Homo sapiens: one gene and its partner. The protein of the gene in region 1 interacts with the protein of each later gene in a pairwise test. Each region holds a gene or a part of one and is shown in the gene's direction. Other genes may lie near its edges.

Region 1 (3,746 bases):
TCGCTCCACTTCGCCAGTGGTTCTGATCTAGATTCGATTCCCTTTGGGGCAAAACTCACCGCCTAATCCCCTATAACTCTACCGGGGAGCCCGGTGGAGAGCAGACGGGCTGACGCTGCCACCTGCCGGCCATCCCAGGATAGGACCGCCGTATTCAAGTCGCCCTCAGGAAGGACCCTCGGGGCACCAGAGGCCTTCGAAGCCCCAATGAGTGAGGCAACTGAGGGTCGCGGGTGCCATTACAAGGCCCAGCCAAGGCCTAGAGCCAAGGCTTGAACCGTGGGGGACCCCCAAGCCCCACCTGCCCAGGAACAGCAGACACTGGGACACTTTGTTTCAGGTCCTGCCCAGGCCCCTCCCACTGTGAGGCTGGGATTTGTCGCCCAGGGTGCAGATGAGAAGAGTGGGGAAAGCAGTCCTGAGCCAGGACAGCGGTGGGGGATGCCTCCTAGAGCAGGCCCTCCCGTCAGGGGCCCATCATAGAACCCAGTGTGAATCCAAAGGAGCCGAAGCCTCCTCCTCAGAATCAGACGTGGAGCCATGAACCCAGGGGCCAGAGCGGCATCTCAAACTGTTATCTAAGCATTGACCAGAACACATGATCACCTCAGCGGCTCCACGTGGGCGATGCCGGGTTGCCTGGTCCACGGATGAGGGGTTCAGCCCAAGGTGCTCAACCCAATCAGAGGGCAGCCTCTGTGTCCAGGAGACACGGGTGCACCCGCGGGGTCAGAACTCCAAAGGGGCGCGGGGGCGCTGGGAGGTTTGGTAGCCAGAGGGCCTGCGGGGCGGGGCCACCCAGGCCATGCCCCTTCCCTGTAAGAGGGGCCATTCCTGCAGTGTGGGGCTCTGGCTTTGTGACTGGGCTGTGCCAGTCTGGGGATGATCCCACAGCTGAGCTCCTGTAGATGGAACCAGAGGTGAGGCAAGGAACTGGAGGCCCTCCCCACTGAGGTCAGCGGGGCGCAGACGCCCCCTTGTCGTGCCCTGCCTTCCTCCTGCAATCCTGCAGGACTCTCCAGGGCCAAGTGCTGCCCTTGGGGCCAAAAAACAGGGCCTTCTCCTTCACCTGCCCTGCAGCCATTCAGGTATGTACCAGGCATCTCCTGCCCTCCCTGGCCAGGCGGCCCCAGAGGCACAGGCCGCAGACACCGCAGGCGACCTGCGTGGGCCTCCAGTTCCCGCCCCAGCCCTTCCCACCCCCAGCTCAGGGCAGGTCCAGCTGTGGCCAGCGGCTGGGGAAGGTTCTGTCCCCTCCAGGTGTGCGGCCTTGGCAAGTGCTTCAGGCCTCCCTCCGCTCGTCCCCTGGGAGCAGAGGGATCGGAGCGCCTGCGATGTGGTTCCCCAGAGCACCTGCGGGGCTCAGGCCAGGCAGGGTGGAGGGTGGAGGGTGGAAGGCCACCTTCCGCCCGTCCTGGAACCACGCGGCGGCTTCCCGGCTGCCCCCCACCCGCCAGGCCCTGCCTCCCGTGGGCACCAGGGGGGCGTCCACACCAAGCCGGCCGTGTGCTTTTCGCGCAGGATTACTGGGGAAGGCGGCTGCTCGGGGCCTGGAAGGTCCCGGGTCTCGCCTCGTGCCCCTCTGGCCCCCAAACCGACCGGCTCCCCGGAACTGGCCAACCCGCGCTGAGAGCCCGCGCAGCTCAAAGGGCGCGAGGGCGGGACCGCCGCGGCCGGCGCTGGGAGCTCGGCTTCCCGAAGACCCAAGCGAAAGCCTCCGTCTCCCCAGCCGTAAATGGGCCTGCAGCGTCTCCACTCCGCAGCGCTGTCCCCAGTGGGAGGGCGGCCCGTGGACGTGCAGGGAGCAGAGCAGGGGCCCCTGGCAGCGTAGGACCCCGAGGTCGCAGCAACCACGCGGCCGCGAGCCCATCCCGCTGCCTCGCCAGCGCCCCTCGCGCGTGCCCCGCCCCCACCTCGGCTCGCGGGCCCCGCCCCGCTCCGCTCCGCCCTGCGCCTCCGACTACCTTCCCGCTGCCCCGCCCCGCGCTGCGCTGGTTCGGACTCCAGCCCCGCTTCCGCCCGGGCCCTGGCCCCGCCTCCAGCCCCAGTCCGGCCCCGCCCCAGCACCTTGACGCAGAGGTCTGCGCCGCACGCAGAGCCACGTCGTGCCGTCATCAGTTCTCGCCCGTCTGGGCGTGGGCGTGGCCGGCGTGGCTGCTCGGGACCACCCGAACCCGCGGCCATGGCCCCGGCCGCCGCCAGCCCCCCGGAGGTGATCCGCGCGGCGCAGAAGGACGAGTACTACCGCGGTGGGCTGCGGAGCGCGGCGGGCGGCGCCCTGCACAGCCTGGCGGGTGAGGGCCGGGCGCGGCCGGACGTCCTCGCGAGCGGCCCAGGGGGTGTTGCCCCTCATGGAGGCGGGGTGTCTGCCGTGTGTGGTCACGGTCGCCTGGGCCCGTCCCACAACCTGGGACCCGGCAGTCTCCTTCGCCTGCCCTGCGGCCATTCAGGGATGTGCGGGGCACCTCCTGCCCTCCCTGGCCAGGTGGCCCCAGAGGCACAGGCCGCAGACACCGCGGGGGACCTGCGTGGGCCTCCAGTTCCCGCCCAAGCCCTTCCCGTCCCCAGCTCAGGGCAGGTCCAGCTGACGCCAGCGGCTGGGGAAGACTCTGTCCCCTCCAGGTGTGAGGCCTTGGCAAGTGCTTCAAGCCTCCCTCCGATCCTCCCCTGTGAGCAGAGGGGTCAGAGCGCCCGCGGCGCGAACGCCTCATACCTCGGTCCGGTTCACACTGACCCCGGCCTTTCCTAGGCCTGAGCAGCAGCCCAGGCCCCTCGCCCTGCTGACCCCAGTGTAGGCTCAGCCAGGCCCTGCCTGCCTCACCAGGCCGGGAGCTGAGTACAGAAGCCAGTGTACTCAATGAAGCAGCACCTGTCATCCCAGCAGTTTGGGAGGCAGAGGCGGGAGGATCGCTTGAGCCCAGGAGTTTGAAACCAGCCTGGGCAACATGGCAAGACCCCGTCTCTACAAAAAATCTGAAAATTAGCCGGACGTGGTGGCGGCGTCTGTAATCCCAGCTCTTCAGGAGGCTGAGGCAAGAGAATCGCCTGAGCCCGAGGGATGAGGCTGCAGTGAGCCATGATTGTGCCGCTGCACTCCAGCCTGGGCGACGGGGCCAGACCCCATCACCGATTAAAAAACGAAAAAAAAAAGATGCCGGGTGTGGTGGCTCACGCCTGTAATCCCAGCACTTTGGGAGGCCGAGGCGGGTGGATCACTTGAGGTCAGGAGTTCGAGACCAGTCTACACAACATGGTGAAACCCCGTCTCTACTAAAAATACAAAAATCAGCAGGGCGTGGTGGCGCGTGCGTGTAATCCCAGCTACTTGGGAGGCTGAGACAGAATCACTTGAACCCGGGAGGCGGAGGTTGCAGTAAGCCAAGATCGTGCCACTGCACTCCAGTCTGGGCAACAGAGTGAGACTCCATCTCAAAAAAAAAAAAAAAAAAAAAAAGGCAAAGCCATCAAGTCTTTGGGGGGTGGGGCAGGCAGTCGTTAAAGGCATGAACTCCCAGCAGAACGTTTCAGGGAGCAGTGGCACTAGAGCCCAGTGGTGGGGGTGTCGTGGCCAAAGGAACAGTGCCATGGGACAGGAAGAGCATGGGTAAATATCAGAGGACAGCCAGGCTCCGTGCCGGGAGGCCCATGGGTGTCAGGTGGGCAGCCATTGGTGGATTCTGAACAGGAGAGTGACATGATGAGAATTTTTTGTGTGTGTACTTACTTGTTTTACAGTACACTTGGCA
Region 2 (3,746 bases), about 160 Mb from region 1:
TCCAGCCTGGGCAACAGTGAAACTCTGTCTCAAAAAATAAAACCAATAGAGATGCCTGTTGATAGACAAGTTTTCTTTTTTTGACGTGCTTGTTACAACTATAGCCATATTGGAGATACACGTGTAAGCAGTTTGAATGAGAAAGTCTGGAATAAATTATGTTGCAGGTGTTGGAAAACAGGTTTATCAGGAAAGGATTTGATTACAGAAGTTTAGAATTGTAAAGGACTTCAAAAGTGATTAGTGGCAGAATTGGGGCTGGAATTTAGGCTTTCTAACTCACAGTTCATAATATTTTGATCCCAAAACACACTACTTGTGGTTGGAAGAAAACAGGTTTTGCAGATATGATTTTACAAGTCTGTGCCCTATCTGTGAAGGACATAGTAAGTGCTTGATCTGGTGCTTGATGCAGTACTCAAATGTGTGTTTAGGAAGCTAAGAATGAAAGTGATGAGGTGACTTAACACAGGATTTTTTTTCATTTAAAATTCTTACCTTGTATCATACTGTGTGTATATCTCATCATACCTCCGGCTCACCCCCACTTAGCTACCTTACAGCAGGGGGTGGTCCTGATTTATCTCTCTGTCCTCACTGTGCCCAGAACAAGACCTTAATAATAGGTGCTCTCTAAGTGCGAAAACAGATTTGTATGTGAAACAGTTGCTACATTCTGACATCTGAATAGAACAATTCCAAAGGAGGAAAGGGACGTCTAGAGTTACCTCTATCTGAGCATTCCCCGTGTTCACTCAGTTGGAGGTTGGGTTCTGTGTGGAGAAAAGGAGATTGTTCAGGGAAAGTAAGTCTATTACTACTGCATTCGAATTGCCCTGCTCAGTCCAAGGTACCAGAGGCTCTCTTAATAACATGGAGTTCTAAGTTCCTGGCCGGCCCTGTGTCCTTTAATCAAACAGTTCTAATAGATAATAGGAAATGAGAGATGCCACTAGATTGGGCAGACAGATGTGCCTGATTAGGGACTGCGAGAGCAAAGAGTGGCCAATGAATGCCTACTAAGTTTTAAACCCTAGCCTGGGAGTTGGGCTTTACAGCAGTGAAGACAACAGACGAAAATCTTTGCGTTCATGGTGTTTAAATTCTGCAGGGTGGGGAGCGGAGAATAAAAAAGTACGGTAGATAGTATGTCAGATACTGTTCAGTGTTAGGAAGAAAAGGAACGGGAATGGCCAAGGAAAGCGTTTCAGAAAAGATAATATTTGAGGGAAACAATGAAGTGAAGCCGGGCGCAGTGGCTCACGCCTGTAATCCCAGCACTTCGGGAGGCCGAGGTGGGCGGATCAGCTGAGGTCCGGAGTTCGAGACCAGCCTGGCCAACCAGCCTGGCCAACATGTTAAAACCCCGTCTCTACAAAAATTAGTCGGACGTGGTGTCGCGCGCCTGTCATCCCAGCTACACGGGAGGCTGAGGCAGGAAGAATCGCTTGAACCCGGGAGGCCAAGGCTGCAGTGAGCCGAGATGGCGCCACTGCATTCCAGCGTAGGCGACAGAGCAAGATTCCTTCTCAAAAAAAAATAAAAAAAAAAAAATGAAGTGAGAGAAAGTAGTATGTTATGTGCCATAATTGTCATATCAATTATATATGTTTAGATTCTGGTTATTTGTAGGCAGTTTGTCTCAATCTGGCCTACTCACAGCTCAGGAAAAAATAATGAAAGAGCTTCGCCAGGTAATTTGGGAAGTTGAAAGAAAGGAGTCCGGGCCTCTAAAACCAGACAGAAAATAACCCTATCTTATCCCTAATTCTGTTTCACAGGAGAAAAGGGAAAAATACCCAAAACACAAACACTCAAAGCTTCCTGGCCCTTTAAAAATGGCGGTTCCGCACTGGTCAACAATACCATTGGTTACCCGAGGCAGAAGAGGGCGGGAGCGAAGGGGTGGAGGGCGTGTCGGCACCGAGGAGGTCCCGCCTCCTACGGCAAGTCGGAGGTAGCAAGATGGCCGCCGCTGAGGAAGGCTGTAGTGTCGGGGCCGAAGCGGACAGGGAATTGGAGGAGCTTCTGGAAAGTAAGAGCCCATAGTGGGAAAGGCCCGAAGAGGGCACGTGTGAGGACCCATTCTGGGGGTTAAGTGAACCTGAGATATTAGGGACGGGCAGGAGAGGCTCTCCAAAGGTTAAATGGGGGCGGAGAGTCTGACCCCCGAGCCCCCCAAAAATCTCTGGGTCATCCTGCCCCACCCCGGCGACTGGAGCTGGGGAGCTCACCTGGGGTCCCTCAGTGGTCCGGATGGTGGATGTTTCCGCAGGACGGCGTTTCATGATACCTCTTCAAACTCCTCTTTAGGTTACTGAGTTCTTAAAGTTCGACTTCAGCAGCAGTAGCAGCAGCAGCAGCATTTGGTTCTTGCTGGGTAGCGAACTACGCACTCACTGATTGCTTACATTAACTCCTAGCAAGCTCGTGGCCGGTCCTTGTGTGCCTCGTCCTGTCTTCCTTAACACGAAAGACACTTTTCTCCTCCTAGTCCTTTTCTCTTTCTCTCGTTAGGCCCCTTAACAGTTCTTTCATCTTGTCAGTAGCTCAAGCGGACTCCTTTCCCTTATTTTGAGAAACTGAGGATGTGGCGATTTCAGGGGAAAGCAGTTCACCCTCCTGAAAGACGGGGGATGTTTTCTTAGCATTACTCTCCACTCCCCTGTTGACTTCCTGCCCAGAGTAGGGCCAGTGCTCTCTCCCTAGGCCTGGCGAACAGAATGGTGGTGAGGACACAGGCTTTTCAGGGCAGAGGTGAATTTGTAATCGCTTGCTCAATCACGGAGATGTGGGCAGGCAGAAAAATGAACAGAAACCCTGAGGAGTGCCAAGTGACTGTGTAAATTAGTGTACGGTTATCTGCAGAGATCAGGCCAAAGGGAGCTCTAGAAGGTTGTTGGGGAGCACTAAACTGGAGAATAAGAGAAGATAGTTTAATGCCGTACCATGGAGTCTGGTATGTAGTCCCTCAGTCTGTGCTGGTACCAGTACCAACAGGAAGCTGGGTGGGATGTCCTGTGCTTTCTCACCAAGTTATTCCTTTTAGAGCTCCAGAGTGAGTTCAGAGGGATGAGGACATCTGTGTTCTCTACTACTGTTGGGTATTTGTATGGGATTTCTAGGGAATCGTTAGGGTGTGGCAAGGGAGACACTATAGATGGAGATGTCTCTGCAGAACTTTTTAATCCTCTCCTCCCAGCTCTGAGATGGACATTTGTTCCACCTTAAGGGATTTCTTTGCCTTTGCTCACAATAAATTAGGTAATCCAGAAGGAAGTAGGAGGCTCATTGAGGGTGGTCTGGGGAGGTGGGGGACTCAAGGAGGAAAATTGAGGAAAGTTGGCAATTTGAAAAATCATATTCCTAATGCTTTGCCCAGAAACCACCCAGCCTTGCTTGCATTCTCATCTGTCGCCAACACACACACCATGTCTCTTGTCTCTGAAGGTGCTCTTGATGATTTCGATAAAGCCAAACCCTCCCCAGCACCCCCTTCTACCACCACGGCCCCTGATGCTTCGGGGCCCCAGAAGAGATCGCCAGGAGACACTGCCAAAGTATAAATTCCACCCCCTTAAGGGATGGGGAGGGGATGGGCATGCAGCCCTGAGCAGAGGTTGGGCAGGCCCCTATGGGCCAGAGGGGAATGTGGGAGGGTACCTTGGCCTCACATTGGTGAGTGCTCTTGCCAGCCTCAGTCCTTGTGAAATAAGGACTTGAGGTTGAGTGGGGGAATCTCAGAG

Evidence for each region. Proteins that work in one complex are often made in the same cells at the same time.
Region 2: the proteins of PEX10 (region 1) and PEX19 interact in a two-hybrid assay, tested with the Homo sapiens proteins (4 studies listed by BioGRID and IntAct, with this or other methods).

What each region holds. Positions count from the first base shown.
Region 1 is NC_000001.11:2,410,939-2,414,684, reverse strand, and holds the start of PEX10 (peroxisome biogenesis factor 10), read left to right. Parts: upstream 1-2,120; 5' UTR 2,121-2,182; coding exon 2,183-2,294; intron 2,295-3,746.
Region 2 is NC_000001.11:160,283,344-160,287,089, reverse strand, and holds the start of PEX19 (peroxisomal biogenesis factor 19), read left to right. Parts: upstream 1-1,956; 5' UTR 1,957-1,965; coding exon 1,966-2,035; intron 2,036-2,234; exon of another isoform or gene 2,235-2,725; intron 2,726-3,450; coding exon 3,451-3,560; intron 3,561-3,746. UniProt on the Homo sapiens protein: Necessary for early peroxisomal biogenesis. Acts both as a cytosolic chaperone and as an import receptor for peroxisomal membrane proteins (PMPs).